Linked DNA regions of Homo sapiens. The protein of the gene in region 4 binds, or shares a complex with, the protein of the main gene of each other region. Each region holds a gene or a part of one and is shown on either strand. Other genes may lie near its edges.

Region 1 (3,579 bases), on a different chromosome or scaffold from region 4:
ATCACGCCACTGCACTCCAGCCTAGGCAACAGGGCAAGACTCCGTCATAAAATAAAATAAAATAACATAAAAATAAAATATTGTTATAACTGCATTCCACATGTTCAAAAAGTTAAGAGAGAAAGAATAGATTTAAAAGACCCGAAATCAAACTTCTAGAAAGGAGAATTATATTGTATGGGATTACTGTTAGATCAGAAATTACAGAAGAAAATAATAGTAAACTTGAACATATAGCAATAGAAATTTTCTAAAGTGAAATACAAAGAGAGAAGAATTTCTTTAAAAATGAAGAGCATCAGTGAGCTCTTCATTTATTTTTTCATTTATTATTTCATTAATAGAGGAATAATTTGAGTTCCCAAAGGAAAGAGAAGGGAACAGAGAAAATATCTGCAGAAATCATGACAAAATTTTCCCCAAATTAATAAAAACTAAAAACCCAGATCTAAGATGCTTAAAAAACCCCAAGCAAAGAAACATTCAGAAACTACACCAAGGCACATTGTAGTCAAATTGTTAGAACTAGTGATAAAATCTTAAAAACAGCCAAATAAAAATGACACATTATGTACACAGGAACAAAGGTAAGAATGACAGCAGTTTTCTCACTAGAAACAATGCAAGAAAGAAGACACTGGAGCAACATCTTAAAAGTACTGAAAGAAGGCTGATGCGGTCACTCACACATGTAATCCCAACAAGCTGGGAGGCCAAGGCAGGCGGATCACTTGAAGCCAGGAGCTCGAGACCAGCCTGGCCAACATGGCAAAACCCCATCCCTACTAAAAATATAAAAATTAGCTGGGTGTGATGGTATGCACATGTAATCTCAGCTACTCGGGAGGCTGAAACAGGAGAATCGCTTGAACCCAGGAGGTGGAGGTTATAGTGAGCCAAGATCACACCACTACACTCCAGCCTGGGCGACATAGCAAGATTCCATCTCAAAGAAGAAAAAAAAAAGTGTTGAAAGAAAAAAGATTGTCAACCTAGAATCCTAAACCTGGCAAAGATCTTTCAAAAATGAAGGCCAAATAAAGAATTTTTAAGACTACTCAAGCAGAACAAATTCAAAACCAGCAGACCCACAATACAAGAAATGTTTTTTTAATATTTTGTAGAAATGGGGTCTCACTATGTTGCCCAGGCTGGTCTCAAATTCCTGGAATCTAGCAATCCTACCACCTCAGCCTTCTCCCAAAGTACTGAGAGTACTGAGATTACAGGCTTAAGCCACCACGCCCCCTAACTTAAGAAATGTTAAAGGAAGCCCTTCAGGCAGAGGAAAAATGATATCAGATAGAAACCTGGATATACACAAAGAAATGAAAGAAACAAAAATGGTAACTACATGGCTTCATGCATGATTCTTATTTAAACCTCCCTAAAAGATAACTGACCATTTAAACAAAAATAATAACTATATAGTATAGGATTTATAACATATGTAAAAGTGAATATATGACAATATAGTGCAAAAATTGGGAGGAGAGAAATGAAGTATACTATAATGGCTCTTAATACTATCTGGAAGCAGTGTAACATCAAGAGAAGGTAGATCCTGATAAAGACATGATCTATAAACCCCAGAGCAACAACTAAAATAACAAAGCAAAAACTTAACAGCTAATTAACCAACACTGGAGATAAAATGAAATCATAAAAATTGTTCAAGTAATCCAAAAGAAGGTAGAAAAACAGGAAAAAGGGAACAAAGAGCAGAATGGATAAAGAGAGGGTCATTTCATGATAAAGGGGTCAATTCATGAAGACCTAACAACACTACACATTCAACTACCTAAAAATGGAGCTTCAAAATACTAGCCCATCCCTGTCTCAGTGCCTTTGCACTTGCTTGCATTTACTGTTACTTCTGACCCAGATGATCCTGTGGCTGGCGCTTTTTCATTCGGGTCTTAGTTCAAGCACCACCTCCCCAGTGAGGCCTTCCCAAAGGCCTCCCTGCCACCCCATCCCATTACCCAGTTTCCTCTGCTTCAACATCCTTATCTACATCTGAAAGTATCTTGTTCTCTGATTACCAGTTTACCTCAACTGCTGACTCCTCACTGCCTACAGTAGTGCCTGGCAGAGAGTTGGTTCAATAATTGTTTAAAAAAGGATGAGGGAGAAAGGAACAACAGTCAGCCAGCCAGCCAAAGGGAAGTGAAGGTCCTCCCCTCTCAGCCCTGTCTGGTACCCTTACCCGTCCATCGCCTCCTCAATCTTCTTCTTCCTCAGCTCAATGAGTTCAGGGGTCTCCATTCCAGCAGGCACTGATGAAAAGCCTCCAGGAGTGATAAGGCCACTGTAAAGAGAGGAACAAGCTCTGGAGTAAAGAGAAGGACCCCAAAGATAGCCCACTTCCAAGAGGCATTCTCTGCTTCCCCCACCTGTCTGCAGGGGTAATAAAGCCTGTCTCATCTGGTTTGTCTTCATCACTTTCTTCCTCTTCCTCTTCTTCTGAGGATTCTTCATCAGATGGTTCCAGTTCCCCCCAAGGGGTCCGATCAATCTCTTCTTCCTCAGTCTTGGTCTGAAAGAGATCACTTTATCATTCAACAAATGTTTTCTAAGTACCTATTATGTGCCAGGCTGTTTTAAGCTGAAGGGGTGTAAGAGTCAAAACACAATAATCCCTACCTACCTAGAGCTCAAATTCTAGTGAGGAGCTTACATTAACATCTCAGGAAAATGTATGCCCTTTTCCAGGCTCTGCTGTGTCAGAACACACAACTCCCTGATAATGAAGCTATAAACCAACAATCTAACCTTCATGACATTAAGTAAAACCAAGATCGCTAGTACATGGCCCATACCTGAAATTCAGCAGCATTGGTTCCAAACACGTCCCCATAGAGCGGTTTCCCAGTCTCATCCACTGGAGGTTTGCCCCAGCCACCAGCATGGTACCCAAAGGAACAGCTCTGCAAGACAGTGAGCACAATCAGTTCACTCCTTAGCTGCAAAAGAAATTCTGAAGCCCTAGAGAAAAGGCACACTCAAAAGTACAGAGCTGATACTTGGGAACTCCGGAAATTATGACTGCAGAATTAAATCAAATGTTATGAAGCATTAGAAACCAAAATTAATAAACAACTAAAATCTGGAGGCAACAGGATAAGGAGACAGGAGGCAGAAAGTATGCTAATAACTTCTGTCATGGCAGAGTCTTTACTGTCTGAAACCAAAATACGTACATTGAAAACATGACTTCAATTTCTTATTGAGTTTTCCTAACTTTGGAAAGCTAGCTTGTTCAGAATCTATTTATCTTAAGGGGCAGAAATTTCTATCTAAAATTTAACAATACTACTGTTTTACTTTAATGACTCATCAATTTTTTTAATGCTTATTTTAAAATAAGAAATTTGAAGACATTCTTGAGATAAAATTATTTCTGAGAGACTGAAGTGAAGCTAAAAAAAAATTATTTCTTTTTTCTTTTTTTTTTTTTTTAAAGTAGAGGTGCGGTTTCACTATGTTGCCCAGGCTAGTCTTAAACCCCTGGCCCCAAGGGATCCTCCCACCTCAGCCTCCCAAAGTGCTGGGATTACAGGTGTTGAGACACCACAT
Region 2 (2,707 bases), on a different chromosome or scaffold from region 4:
GCTAGGCACTATGATTCTAAAAAAACGAACAACTGAAGCATGCATGAAGTTCTTCAACTTCAGGGAATCCATGAACCTCCCCAAACAGTACACAAGTTGTGTAGTGTAGTGTGTACATTTTTTTCTGGGAAGAGGTCCTCTAATTTGAATTAACTTCTAAAGGGGCCCAGAGACGCTAACAGTACAAGGTAGAATTCTAATCTGTTTCTTTAGATTTTTAATAATAATGGGAGCTGTAGACTGCAGGAAGTTCACTTTTGCACATCTGAGAGTCAATTTTAATGGAAAGAGGGTAGAAAACAAACAAGAGTTAATTTGCAAGGACTGGGCAGAAAAAAAAAATCCAGAGGGTTGTTTTCTGAGTTTAGGAACATGTTCTGGTTTATAGAGAGGAAATGGAGACATACGTGCTAATACCAGCGGGAAGCAAGGAGACTCCAAAGAGATTCTTCAAGTCCTCAGAAAAGCCAACCTTCAGTATAAATAAAGCAATATCAAGAATTTAAAATGCAATTTAACTCAAGTCCAATTTTCAGTTTCTGCATATTATCAACTCATTTTTATTGATGAATATCACAAACTTCAATCAATACTCTTAAAAATATTATTCTGCATGCATTTAACAAATCTGACAAAAGAACAAGTATCCAGTTTACTTGCATTGTAACTATGACATTTTAACTAAACAATCAATTAACATATATTTAAAACCATTAGGTACAGGTAACAATGAAACACTTCAATGCTTTAATCTGATGGCATCCTACCACTATGCACATGTTCATGTAACACTACTAGTAATTACCCTGAAGCACAGGCAAATGTAGATGGAGGACTCTCCCTAAAAAGCAAGTTTAAGGGATTAAATATCATCGTCATCATCATCGCTACTGAGAATAAAGCTGCTGCCAGTGGATAGGGGCCCTTCTTCAACACTCCCAAAACCACCCAAAGTCCCCCTCTCATCAGAATCGTCAAACAACTTCTCACTGGAATCTTCCTCCTCATCAAACAACTTCTCATTGGAATCATCATCTTCGAACAACTTTTCGTCAGCATCTTCAACTTCCTTTCCATCTGCATCTTCATCTTCCTTGTCATCTGACTCTTCAAACAGCTTTTCATCTGCATCACCTTCTTCCGCCTTTTTATCAGCAGCTTCAAGCCCCTTTTCATCTGCATATTCTTCATCCTCTTTCTCATCAGACTCATCATCAAATACTTTTTCATATGTATCCTCCTCTTCTTCCTTTTCATCTGAATCTTCGTCAAACTCTCTCTCAGAGCCTTCCTCATCTAACACTTTTTCAGAGCCGTCATCTTCAAATTCGGAGTTTTCAGAGTCATTTTCTTCTAACTCTTTGTCAAGAACATTTTCATGAAGCTCCTTTTCAGAACCTTCCTCGTCCAAATCTTTCTCGAGACCATTTTCTTCAAATTCTCTTTCGGAGCCATCTTCAGACTGTTTTTCAGAGCAGTCTTCATCAGACTCTTTCTCTGAGTCATCTTCTTCGGACTCTTTTGTGGGGCCAACCTCCTCTTCAGACTCCTTGTTGAGGTCATCTTCAGATTCCTTTGCAAGGCCATTCTCTTCACAATCATTTTTGAGTGTCTTCTTTTTAGACTCTTTTTTAGGACTATCCTCTTCAGATCCTCTTACGGGATTGCCTTCTTCAGACTCTTTTTGGGAGCAGCTGCCTTCAAACCCTCTTTTGGGGCAGCCCTCTTCAGATTCTTTTTCAGGGCAGCCTTCTTCAGCCTCTTTTTCGGGGCTACTTTCCTTAGCATTGTTTTCAGAAGCACCTTCTTCAAATTCTCCCCCATCTTCTGTCTTTTCAAACTTCTTCTCATCTATAGGTTCTTCAAACGCCATTCCAGTTGCAGTTTCTTGAGCATTCATTTTAGATGTGCTGGGGTGCTCTGAAAAATGCCTTGCTCTAGAAGGCCCTGCCCTTTCGGAAGCAGAGACAGAATCTGAACGCCTAAGGCCTCTGTTGGCCTCAGGAGCATTGAGGAAAGCCTCCCATCCTCTCAGCCTTTCCTCCCTTTCTCTTGAGGTTTCCTCCACCTGTGGATAAATGGAGACTGCCATTAAAATAAGTTTCAGGCAAAAGGTTACTTCTCTGAACATATCTAATATTGATGAAACAACCTTAATTTTATAAAGCATCTCTTATTAGGAAATGAAAGCAATTCCATCTTCAGTTTTCAAAACTTTACATCTTGATTTACTAGAGTTGACCTTAAATAAGACCACTTAAATAAAGGCCAAATATCACAGTACTGCAGAAATGTCTCATCTCTTAAAAAGTTAATATTTGAGCTCTGTCTATACTTTACAGCATACAAAGGAAGAGTAACATTTGGTTGAATGTGTTCTTTTCTTATCACTATTCTGAACAAGCCTCAAACTTTCAGACTTAGAAACTGAAAGACTCAAACATTTCTCTATCTTCTGAATGCAAAATATTATTTAAAAGCAGCACTGTAAATAATTAAGAGGAAGAGTAAAAAATTAAAATATATAAGTAAATAAAAATAAAAGAAGCATTGTTACATTAAATAGGTTAAACCAAACCCAAAATTTAGATCTGAAGGATCAGTATTTGTTGGTAATGAAACAATGTGTGTGCCCTTGACAAGCAGCAAAATTTACCTGATAATCTGTAGTCCCATCCCATGCCTGGGCAGTGATTTGACGGCCACC
Region 3 (3,579 bases), on a different chromosome or scaffold from region 4:
GAGCTTGGTAGGTGGAGACTGCAGTGAGCCGTGATTGTGCCACTGCACTCAACCTGGGCGACAGAGTGAGACCCTGTGTCAAAAAACAAATGAAAATCCACCTCTCATCTTTTTTCATTAATCTTGCCAGCATCAGCTAGGGTAATATTATTTGGTACACATGTAACTGTACATACAAACTGATCTCAAGATTGAAATCATGTGACGGTATCTGGTTATAATTACATAGGTGGGGCCTGGTGCGGTGGCTCACGCCTGTAATCCCAGCACTTTGGGAGGCCAAGGTGGGTGGATCACGAGGTCAGGAGTTCGAGACCAGCCTGACCAACGTGGAGAAACCCTGTTTCTACTAAAAATACAAAAATTAGCCCGGCGTGGTGGCAGGCACCTGTAACCCCAGCTACTCAGGAGGCTGAGGCTGGAGAATCACTTGAACCCGGGAGGCAGAGGTTGCTGTGAGCCAAGATCATGCCCCGGCACTCCAGCCTGGGTGACAGAGCGAGACTCTGTCTCAAAAAAAAAAAAAAAAAAAAAATTACATAGGTGATCTAAAGCATGTTTATATTAATTAAACACACACAATTAAACAAAACATCAACAGGACTATTTTCTTAGAACACACGAATTCCTTCTCCCCTAAATATGTGTCTCTAAGCCCCACTTTGAGAAGTACTAATGTAATTAGAGCTGAAAGCCTTCGATTACTGATCTAGATAGAGAAACCTCAGTGATTTCCCCCAGTCACAGAGCTATTAATGGCATATCAAAGATTCATATCGATAATATTTTGTTTTTTTAAGCTGGGACTTTTGTCAGTGCTTCGGATTGAAACTTTACATTGTTTTTAATCATAAACATTTGCTAGAAAGTAGGTATCTTTTCCTATAAGTAGAGGTAGTGTCTTCTAACTTTTCATTAATTATAGTGCATAGAACTAAAACATTTTTCGTTTAAAGTTTTTTATTTTATGGAAATTTTCTAATTATTTCTGTGTGGGTGTGTGAAATAAAATTTTTTTGCTTTTTTAAGACCCCTGGGCATACTCCTTCCTTAAGATGGGATGAGACACCAGGTCGTGCAAAGGGAAGCGAGACTCCTGGAGCAACCCCAGGCTCAAAAATATGGGATCCTACACCTAGCCACACACCAGCGGGAGCTGCTACTCCTGGACGAGGTGATACACCAGGCCATGCGACACCAGGCCATGGAGGCGCAACTTCCAGTGCTCGTAAAAACAGATGGGATGAAACCCCCAAAACAGAGAGAGGTACTTCTAGTGGAGTATGGGTGTGTGGGTGAAATGTTGAGTGATATGTTTACAGACTGAAATGTGTTCTGTTTATTCCTGGGTGGACACGTATAAATAACCAGCTGCTTTTGGGGGACAGATTAAGAATAGAACAGTTCATATGCCTAATTTTTTCCACTTCTTGAAGTGGTTTAAGATTTAAGGAAGAACCTTAGGTAAAAGTAAAGTTAGTAGGCTGTAACCTTTGATTTTGTGTGTTTCTTTAGAGATAGGGTCTTGCTCACTGTAGCCTTGACATCCTAGGCTCAAGTGATCTTCCCACCTCAGCCTTCTTAGTAGCTGAGACTATAGGGGCATGCCACCATGCCTGGCTAATTTTTTTTTTTTGAGATGGAGTTTTGCTCTTGTTGTCCAGACTGGAATGCAATGGCGCGATCTCAGCTCACTGCAACCTCCACCTCCCGGATTCAGGCGATTCTCCTGCCTCAGCCTTCCTGAGTAGCTGGGATTACAGGCATGCGCCACCAAGCCCGGCTAATTTTGTATTTTTAGTAGAGACGGGGTTTCTCTATGCTGGTCAGGCGGGTCTCGAACTCCCGACCTCAGATGATCTGCCCCCCTCGGCCTTCTGAAATGCTGGGATTACAGGCATGAGCCACCGCTTCCGGCCCCTGGCTAATTTTTAAATTTTTTGTAGAGACAATGTCTTGCTTCATTGCCCAGCCTGGTGTTGAACTCCTGGTTTCAAGTGATCTGCCAAAGTGTTGGAATTACAGGCATGAACCACTGTGCCTGACTTACCCTTTGTTTTTTATTATGGAAAAATGTACATAACATCAAATTTACTTTTTTTGTTGTTGTTGTTGAGATGGAGTCTTGCTCTGTCACCCAAGCTAGAGTGCAGTGGTGCGCTCTCGGCTGACTGCAACCTCTGCCTCCCCAGTTCAAGTGATTCTTTTGCTTCAGCCTCCTGAGTAGCTGGGATTACAAGCGCCCACCACCACACCTGGCTACTTTTTGTATTTTTAGTAGAGACAGAGTTTCATCATGTTGATCAGGCTGGTCTCAAACAACTTTAAATGGGTCACCATTTTAGGAATATTCTATTTTAGAACTTGATAGTTTTGAGTATAACTGTTTGAGAATAAAGAATATTATTTTAACAGTGATTAAAATTGTGGTTTTACTCACTCTTTCTTTTTAAAGATACTCCTGGGCATGGAAGTGGATGGGCTGAGACTCCTCGAACAGATCGAGGTGGAGATTCTATTGGTGAAACACCGACTCCTGGAGCCAGTAAAAGAAAATCACGGTGGGATGAAACACCAGCTAGTCAGATGGGTGGAAGCACTCCAGTTCTGACCCCTGGAAAGACACCAATTGGCACACCAGCCATGAACATGGCTACCCCTACTCCAGGTAGAACTGTCTCATTGGACATAATTGTTTTTTTCTCCATAAATTATTTAATTTTTTCCTTTGTGGTATTCTGTGTACTATTAATGTCAACTTCTAGTAAGAATAAGGAGATATACAAATTTAAGTCTTGGTTTGCGTTTATAATATAAAAGCAAATAATAGGATTGATCTTAACTGTCTTTTATCTCAATGTATGTAATAATACAGTCTTGTACTATAGATTATATAAAAATTTGCTTTTCTTGGTAGGTCACATAATGAGTATGACTCCTGAACAGCTTCAGGCTTGGCGGTGGGAAAGAGAAATTGATGAGAGAAATCGCCCACTTTCTGATGAGGAATTAGATGCTATGTTCCCAGAAGGATATAAGGTAGTACATCAAATTTGAATGAGGTGGTATTTAGGATATACATTTATTTTAAATAGTGAAAAAAATTGATTAAGCTTGCATTGGCTTTGCCCAAATTTACTATTGTCATTCCATTCTCTTAGCTATTTCCAGGTATATTTCAGTTCCATATAGAGATGAAAAGAAATGAACAACATGAAACTTTTATTACTTTTTGAAAGACATCTCAAAGACTTGTGTATGGGTCTATCGGTTATACTTTGAGAACTGCTGGTGCTTCAGTTTTCTAGCAGTCCCAGGAATAAGCTCGTTGAGATTGTGGTTATTTTACTTGGTGCTTCACCAAGATTTTATATACTTAAGTTTATGGATTGTCAGTGGACACAAAGAATTTTTTTTTTTTTTTTTTTTTAAAAGATGGAGTCTCACTCTGTTGCCCAGGCTGAAGTGCAGTGGCGTGATTTCGGCTCATTGCAACCTCCGCCTCCCAGGTTTAAGCGATTCTCTTGCCTGAGTTTCCCAGGTACCTGGGATTACAGGTGTCCACCACCATGCCCGGCT
Region 4 (3,579 bases):
TCGTGAACAAAAGAGAAATCCCTGTCTTCATGGAGTTTCTAGTCTAGTGAGGAGGAGTCAAGTGCATTGTCAGTGTCTGTTACATGGTGCTAAATACTACAGAGAGAAAGCAGGGAGCAGAAATAGAGGGAGGTGGGGCAAGTACGCTGCGGTTCTGAATAGGATAGTCAGGGGGGACCTGCGTAGTGTTTTTGAAAGGATGAGAGCAGGTCAGTGTCATGAAAGCAGCCGTCTCATACTGACCGTGTTCTGGGTAATCGGCTAGTGCTTTGCATGCTTTCCTGCTAATCCTCGAAGCCACCTTTTTAAGTTCATGGTGCCAACTTTGAGTGGTGGTGCCATTATTTTGGAGAAGGAAATCAAGTTACTGAGGTTAAGTAACTTGCCCTAAGTCCCACAGCCAAGTGGAGCTGGGATTGGGACACAGAATCCCATGCTTCCTCATCTCCTGTGCTTTATCACAGGCCCAGGAAGGCTGCCTCTTTGTACTGCGTTGTAAAGCACTGACAGTTGCTTTAACTCTTCTGTATTTCAGATCTTGATTCCACCCAAAGGTTTATTTTCAAAGCTCAAGAAAGAGGCTGAAAACCCCCGAGAAGTTTTGGATCAGGTAAACTGAATAGCATTTCTTGCAACCAGTTACTGGTGGTTGGTTCTGTTTTATGTCTGAAAACAGTCTCTGAGGCAGGACCTTGTTATGTTCCAGTCATGGGAATGGTGGGAGAAAAGGCTTTGTTGGCTACAAAGGCCAAAGAAACCTGGAGTCCGGATGCTTCCCAACATACCACAACTTTCTGCTTTGCTCTCAGCCTCAATATATCTCCCTCTTTTCCACTCTAGCTAGAAGACAGAAGGCCAGCTCCCAAGCAGATCAGAGGGTGGAATTTTCATTCTGTCCCAACTCTGCACCTGGGTGGAACCAGGTGCAAATGCCATAGTTTGGAACCATACTTCCATTCTGTTCCGAAGGAGGCGCTGACTTTGATGAAAGCCCTGGAGGTGGTAGCCTCATCAGGAGCAGACCCTGCTTCAGCGTAGCACCAAGCTGTTTCCCATCTCTGCAGGTGTGTTACCGAGTGGAATGGGCCAAATTCCAGGAACGTGAGAGGAAGAAGGAAGAAGAGGAGAAGGAGAAGGAGCGGGTGGCCTATGCTCAGATCGACTGGCATGATTTTGTGGTGGTGGAAACAGTGGACTTCCAACCCAATGAGCAAGGTAGGTCTGTGAGGAGTGACTCCAGATGGGGAGCCAGGAACTCAGACTTCCCGGGAAACCTGGTGCAGGTGTTCCCAGAGAGCAGTAGAATCTCTCAGAGGGCTTTATCAGTGCTGTCTCCTCCCTGCTCCCAAAAGACTTCAGTTCTACCACTTTGCCCAACTTAGATTCAATACGTACTTGCCAGACCCTAGATGGGCCTCTGGAGATAGCTGGAGAGAAAACAGACATGGCCCCAGCCCTTGGGGAGCTCAGACAGGGCAAATAGGTGGGTCTTTGATAAGGAATACCTTTGCCTCTGGCTCACCCTCTAGGGAACTTCCCTCCCCCCACCACGCCAGAGGAGCTGGGGGCCCGAATCCTCATTCAGGAGCGCTATGAAAAGTTTGGGGAGAGTGAGGAAGTTGAGATGGAGGTCGAGTCTGATGAGGAGGATGACAAACAGGAGAAGGCGGAGGAGCCTCCTTCCCAGCTGGACCAGGACACCCAAGTACAAGATATGGATGAGGTAAGCTGCTGGGCAGGCCTGCAGGATGACCTTTTCCCCTGAAGCCCCAGGAGGTCGAAGTGCTCTCCACCAGTCAGATCCAGCTCCCCTGTGAGCCTTGAAAGGAGGCGTGGGTCCTGAACAAGGCCATACAGCTGCCCAAGTCCAGGCAGCACAGAGCCTCTTTCCAGCTCCGGCAACAAAGATTCATTCATAGGCAAGGATCTAAAAGCTGTGCTGACCTGTTCTGTGGCCGCCTCCCTGGCCCGGACAGCCTGCTCTCACTGCCTCGTGCCAGCCCTCAGGGAACTCACTGCATTACCCTGTTCTGTTTTGAGCTCTCAGCTGGGCTCCAAGCTCCCAGAGCTTTTCTAAATGTAGCCCACGCTTCCTTTCAGGCATCCCTACCCCCTTCAAGCCAGGCCCTCTAAGCAGGCATGGAGTCTCCAGAACCAGACTGTTCTCCCCCACTCGGAAATAATTTGTGCACAGCCTGAGAAGAAAGGGCCCCTGTCTGTGGGAAATGACTTTTTCTCTCCCTCCCAGCATTGCTGTGTGAGCAGCTACCATTGATTGGCGACTCGCCGCCCCCACCCCTCGCCCCCTTGGCACTGTCCCCCCCCGGCATGTTAAGTGCCCTTGGCCTCTTGGGACTGCCTGGTGCCAGCTGCTGGAAATGCCTGGGAGGAGTGCTAGGACCGTGGCCTCAGCACTCCCATTCATGCTGTGAGGAAGCAGCTTGGCCTGCTGCCGGCTGGCCTCAGCTGCCCTGGGAGGCTTAGCACATGGACGCTGGCTGGCAGAGGCCAAGGCTCCTTGCCACCCAGAGACCTGCCAGGCTCAGCTACAGGGAGGTGGCCTCAGCCCCTCTCTGAGTCCTGCCATTGCTTTGCTTTTCAGGGTTCAGATGATGAAGAAGAAGGGCAGAAAGTGCCCCCACCCCCAGAGACACCCATGCCTCCACCTCTGCCCCCAACTCCAGACCAAGTCATTGTCCGCAAGGATTATGATCCCAAAGGTAGGGAGGGCCTGCTTCCCAACCCTCGGGCTGCCCAGGAAGTCCTGTGTGCCCTCATGTGTTCCTCACACCCGTCTTTCTAGGAGGGCTTGAGGTGCAGCTTATTGTAAAAGCATTGCAAGCCCGTCTGTTACAGGTTTCATGGTGGGAACAGGGCCCAGTCATCTCTGGTGCCCTAGTGCCTTTCACAGTGCCAGGTACAAGAGTGGCACTGAATAGATGCCTTGATGAATGATGCACGCATGAAATACCACCCTCTTAACTCAGGTGGCTGCCCACCAGTGTTCTTACTGAAACATCTGTTTCCTTTTAGCCTCCAAGCCCTTGCCTCCAGCCCCTGCTCCAGATGAGTATCTTGTGTCCCCCATTACTGGGGAGAAGATCCCCGCCAGCAAAATGCAGGAACACATGCGCATTGGACTTCTTGACCCTCGCTGGCTGGAGCAGCGGGATCGCTCCATCCGTGAGAAGCAGAGCGATGATGAGGTGTACGCACCAGGTGAGGTGGGGGTTCCAGGAGAGCCCATGGTAGTCTCCGAATTACAGCCATCTTCTTCTAAGCAAACATAGAAAGCAACAATTGAGGTCAACAAAAGCTTTTGAGGAGAGTTGCACTCTATGATATTGCAAGAGAACTCCCCACTTTCCAGAAGAACTCCCCATAGAAATTCCCCAAAGGCAGACACTGAAGGAGATGCCATGTGCCTGTTGACATCCCAGAGCAAGCTCTGGCTTTAGCTGGAAGGGCTTCCTGTGGCTGTTTAGAAGGAGAGCATTGATGGCTGGAGTACCATGAGCTCTTTGGAATGGGGCAGGAACTGTGCCACAGGTGGGAGACTGGGCTTCTAGTTTTGACTCT
Region 5 (3,579 bases), on a different chromosome or scaffold from region 4:
AGAGCCACATCACTGCAGCTTTCATCTCTAATAAAGATCTTTATAAGTGTTTTGTTAATAAGCTTTGAACTTCTTTGAAGTGGACACTGCAAAACATGAACTATTTAAAAGTTGACCTTGCCTGAGGCCTACTAACTCTTTTGTCTTTGATTCAACTGGTGCCTCAAATGCAGTGGCCCCAGGTCTGATTTTAGTGACAGATCTGATAGATGTGAGGGTCATTCTGAGTGATGAATCAAATTGTTAAAGTCAGGTTTCTTTCTGTTACTGACTCTAGGTCTATCCAGATGGCATTCGGCACATACGAGCAGACAAGAGAGTCAATGAGTGGAAGACCCCTGGAAAGAAAACAATTGTGAAGTGTGCAGTGAACCAGCGACAAGTGGTGATTGCCCTGACAGGAGGAGAGCTGGTCTATTTCGAGATGGATCCTGTATGTTATTTTATCATTCACTGTGGGACTTATTGTAGGGACCAGAGGGAAAGATGGGCATTGTAGTCTAGTCATTTAGATGATAGTATGGTGAAATCCTGTCTCTACTAAAAATACAAAAATTAGCTGGGCGTGTTGGCATGCACCTTGTAGTCCTAGCTACTCAGGAGGCTGAGGCAGGAGAATTGCTTGAACCCGGGAGGCAGAGGTTGCGGTGAGCTGAGATTGCACCACTGCACTCCAGCCTGGCGACAGAGCAAGACTCCGTCTCAAAAAAAAAAAAAAAAAAAAAAAGCGAGCTGGAGTGACAGTGTTCACAAACCAGTTTGGTCCCTTACAGAGATGGGGAAAAGGGGTAATTTGATGTCTAATTCTAGGTAGAGTTATGAAATCCCCTCTTAGCAGTGAAACACTTGCTCCTCCTGCATTTCACTCTCTACTTTTCCAACAAATATTTGGCATAGATTTAATTTCTGCAGTCTGAATCCATTTCAGAAAACTTCTATATGGAAGGATGTTCAGTACACTTAATTCTCTTGCTCTCAGGAGGTCTCTAGTGTGGCCAAATTTGTAGCCTGCCTGTACCTTTGGTTGAGATTTCTCTGTCTTTAACCATATTTGAATTCCCTTCACCCAGAATATTCTTGTAAAACACAGACAGTTTTATATGTCTCCATTTCCTGAGAACAAAGTTGGCTCAGAAAATTTGTGGCACATTGACCTTGTCAAAGGTCTGTTCATTCTCTTATTGATGGAAGATACTCATTTTGCTTGCTGTGAGCCTGTTAACTTCAGTCTTGAGAACTCAGGTAGATAAATTCTTGTCATTTACTATAGTAAGAGGAGTGAGAGGAAGCAGAACAAAATACAACAGCCCTCCTTCATTCTCTGGATCCAGGGTTTTGGGGTGAATTGGAGCATCTAGACCCATCCCTCTGTAGTTTTGACCTTGCTGTGTCTTTCCTCCTGTAGTCAGGACAGCTGAATGAGTACACAGAACGGAAGGAGATGTCAGCAGATGTGGTGTGCATGAGTCTGGCCAATGTACCCCCTGGAGAGCAGCGGTCTCGCTTCCTGGCTGTGGGGCTTGTGGACAACACTGTCAGAATCATCTCCCTGGATCCCTCAGTGAGTGACACTCTGAGCTTCAAGGATCATCTGGTTGGAACCTGAGCATCTGGCTCCTGATGTCTATCTCTGAGATCCACTCCTGATGTCTATCTCTGAGATCAGCTGGGTTAGAACCCAGAATCCATACCTGCTGCTTCTCTTGTCATTGCAGTGTGTTTCAGGAGTTTCCTGCTGTGGTTTAAGGATATGATCTGAGACTACAGAAATGTTTCTTTGGCTTAAGCCTCAACTCCTTTTTTTAAGTTAACAACCAAGACTGCATAAATTTGACTTGCTGCAGGACCCTAGGTGACTTTTCAGGAGGTGTGCTTTGCTTAATTACCTTTGCCATTATCTTCTTTGACAAAAGGAGGAAAGCATGATCTTCCCGAAGCTTATTCTGAAATTGGGTGTAACTAATAACTCAGTACTCTCTTAGAACTCACTCCCCGGGTTTTTTCTGTGCATAAGGAAGTACTTTTTCAATCCTAGAATTAGATTTCTCTGGGTATGTTTTTTTCCTAAAATTGTCATTTTCTGTGTTTTTATGATTTTTCTCTCCCTCTCAGGACTGTTTGCAACCTCTAAGCATGCAGGCTCTCCCAGCCCAGCCTGAGTCCTTGTGTATCGTGGAAATGGGTGGGACTGAGAAGCAGGATGAGCTGGGTGAGAGGGGCTCGATTGGCTTCCTATACCTGAATATTGGGCTACAGGTAAGAGATCCAGAGGCCCACATTGTGGACATTAGGCCTTCTGTACGTTTCACACACTCCTTTGTTTGATAACAGGGATTTTCTCTGCCCATGGTTTCAGATCCTCACCTTATGAAAAGTGAACAGTGTCACTCTGGGTTCCACTTTTCTCAGCTCTTTAATTCGAACAAATCAGGCTGAGAAAGAAATATTTTGATAAAGAGTCTTCACATCTGATAAATGCTGTTTGATAGCTACTCTAAGTCAGAACTGGATGGGTTCCTGAAGGATCAACTGTAGTTCCCACTATTCACTAGTTTCAAAAGCAGCAATGAATACCTCTCAGTTCATAATTGGCTTCATTAGCAATAAAGGACCCCTAAATGTTCCCTGTTGTCAAAGTTGCTGAGCTCTTTGTGCCGTGAAGAAAAGGTGTGCTTTAACGCTAAGATAGTGTCAGGATTCTTGATCATATGCTTTTCATTTTCCTTAATGATTATTGACTCAGACATCTAAGTAATCTAGCCCAGGTACTTTTTGCTTTTTAATTTTACTTCCTAATTTAGAAATCTCAAACATAGCCAGAAGTTAGAGAGACTAATACAGTGAACTTCCATGTACCCAGTTTTTTTGGGAGAGGGTTGTTGTTATTTTTTTAGTTTTTTTTCTTTTGTTGGATTTTTATGGGCTGCCACATGGGTTTTCGGTCTATTTTTTTCTTTTTTAGTTTTAACAGCTATCAGCAACATTCTGCTGTTCTTATTTTATCTTTTCCCTGGACTATTTTAAAGCAAATCCAAGATCTATCATTTCATCTATAAATACTTGATAATGTAGTTCCAACAGATGTCTGTTTTTGTAAGATACTAGTATTATCATGCTCAGCAAAATATAACAATAGTTCCTTATTACCATGTTCCAGTTTTCCCTGTTCTTCTTTCCCCCAATGTGGCTTTATAGTTGGTTGTGCTCAGGACCTCAGCATAGCAGTCTACGCTTTTTCCATTTCCTTCATCTTTCTTTTTATGTCTCTTAAACTGTTCTACCCCATTTTGAAGTATTACAAGATCAGATCATTTGTCTTGTAGAATTTCCCACCTTCTGGACTTAATAAAGTCATTCCTTATGTGTTCAAGTTCCTGTATCCTCTGTATCAAGCTGGTGGGTAGAATTAGACCATGCCATCCATTAGAAATGTAAGGTGAACTACAGGTGTAATTTAAATTTTCTAGTAGCCACGAACAGGAAAAAAGTAATTTTAATGTTTTTTTTTTTTCTTTAAAAAAAAATAGAGATAGGGTCTCGCTGTGTTGCTCAGACTGGTCTTGAACTCCTGGCCTCAAG

What was found.
Region 1: SF3A1 (region 4) and SF3B2 share a complex: the UniProt entries of both Homo sapiens proteins name them as parts of the 17S U2 SnRNP complex.
Region 2: SF3A1 (region 4) and HTATSF1 share a complex: the UniProt entries of both Homo sapiens proteins name them as parts of the 17S U2 SnRNP complex.
Region 3: SF3A1 (region 4) and SF3B1 share a complex: the UniProt entries of both Homo sapiens proteins name them as parts of the 17S U2 SnRNP complex.
Region 5: SF3A1 (region 4) and SF3B3 share a complex: the UniProt entries of both Homo sapiens proteins name them as parts of the 17S U2 SnRNP complex.

What each region holds. Positions count from the first base shown.
Region 1 is NC_000011.10:66,062,360-66,065,938, reverse strand, and holds part of SF3B2 (splicing factor 3B subunit 2), read right to left. Parts: intron 2,931-3,579; coding exon 2,823-2,930; intron 2,540-2,822; coding exon 2,397-2,539; intron 2,312-2,396; coding exon 2,210-2,311; intron 1-2,209. UniProt on the Homo sapiens protein: Component of the 17S U2 SnRNP complex of the spliceosome, a large ribonucleoprotein complex that removes introns from transcribed pre-mRNAs.
Region 2 is NC_000023.11:136,510,169-136,512,875, reverse strand, and holds the end of HTATSF1 (17S U2 SnRNP complex component HTATSF1), read right to left. Parts: coding exon 2,657-2,707; intron 2,069-2,656; coding exon 863-2,068; 3' UTR 530-862; downstream 1-529. UniProt on the Homo sapiens protein: Component of the 17S U2 SnRNP complex of the spliceosome, a large ribonucleoprotein complex that removes introns from transcribed pre-mRNAs.
Region 3 is NC_000002.12:197,407,458-197,411,036, reverse strand, and holds part of SF3B1 (splicing factor 3B subunit 1), read left to right. Parts: intron 1-1,029; coding exon 1,030-1,267; intron 1,268-2,455; coding exon 2,456-2,668; intron 2,669-2,917; coding exon 2,918-3,039; intron 3,040-3,579. UniProt on the Homo sapiens protein: Component of the 17S U2 SnRNP complex of the spliceosome, a large ribonucleoprotein complex that removes introns from transcribed pre-mRNAs.
Region 4 is NC_000022.11:30,339,836-30,343,414, reverse strand, and holds part of SF3A1 (splicing factor 3A subunit 1), read left to right. Parts: intron 1-535; coding exon 536-610; intron 611-1,064; coding exon 1,065-1,215; intron 1,216-1,529; coding exon 1,530-1,723; intron 1,724-2,602; coding exon 2,603-2,720; intron 2,721-3,033; coding exon 3,034-3,219; intron 3,220-3,579. UniProt on the Homo sapiens protein: Component of the 17S U2 SnRNP complex of the spliceosome, a large ribonucleoprotein complex that removes introns from transcribed pre-mRNAs.
Region 5 is NC_000016.10:70,554,774-70,558,352, forward strand, and holds part of SF3B3 (splicing factor 3B subunit 3), read left to right. Parts: intron 1-277; coding exon 278-433; intron 434-1,405; coding exon 1,406-1,561; intron 1,562-2,112; coding exon 2,113-2,256; intron 2,257-3,579. UniProt on the Homo sapiens protein: Component of the 17S U2 SnRNP complex of the spliceosome, a large ribonucleoprotein complex that removes introns from transcribed pre-mRNAs.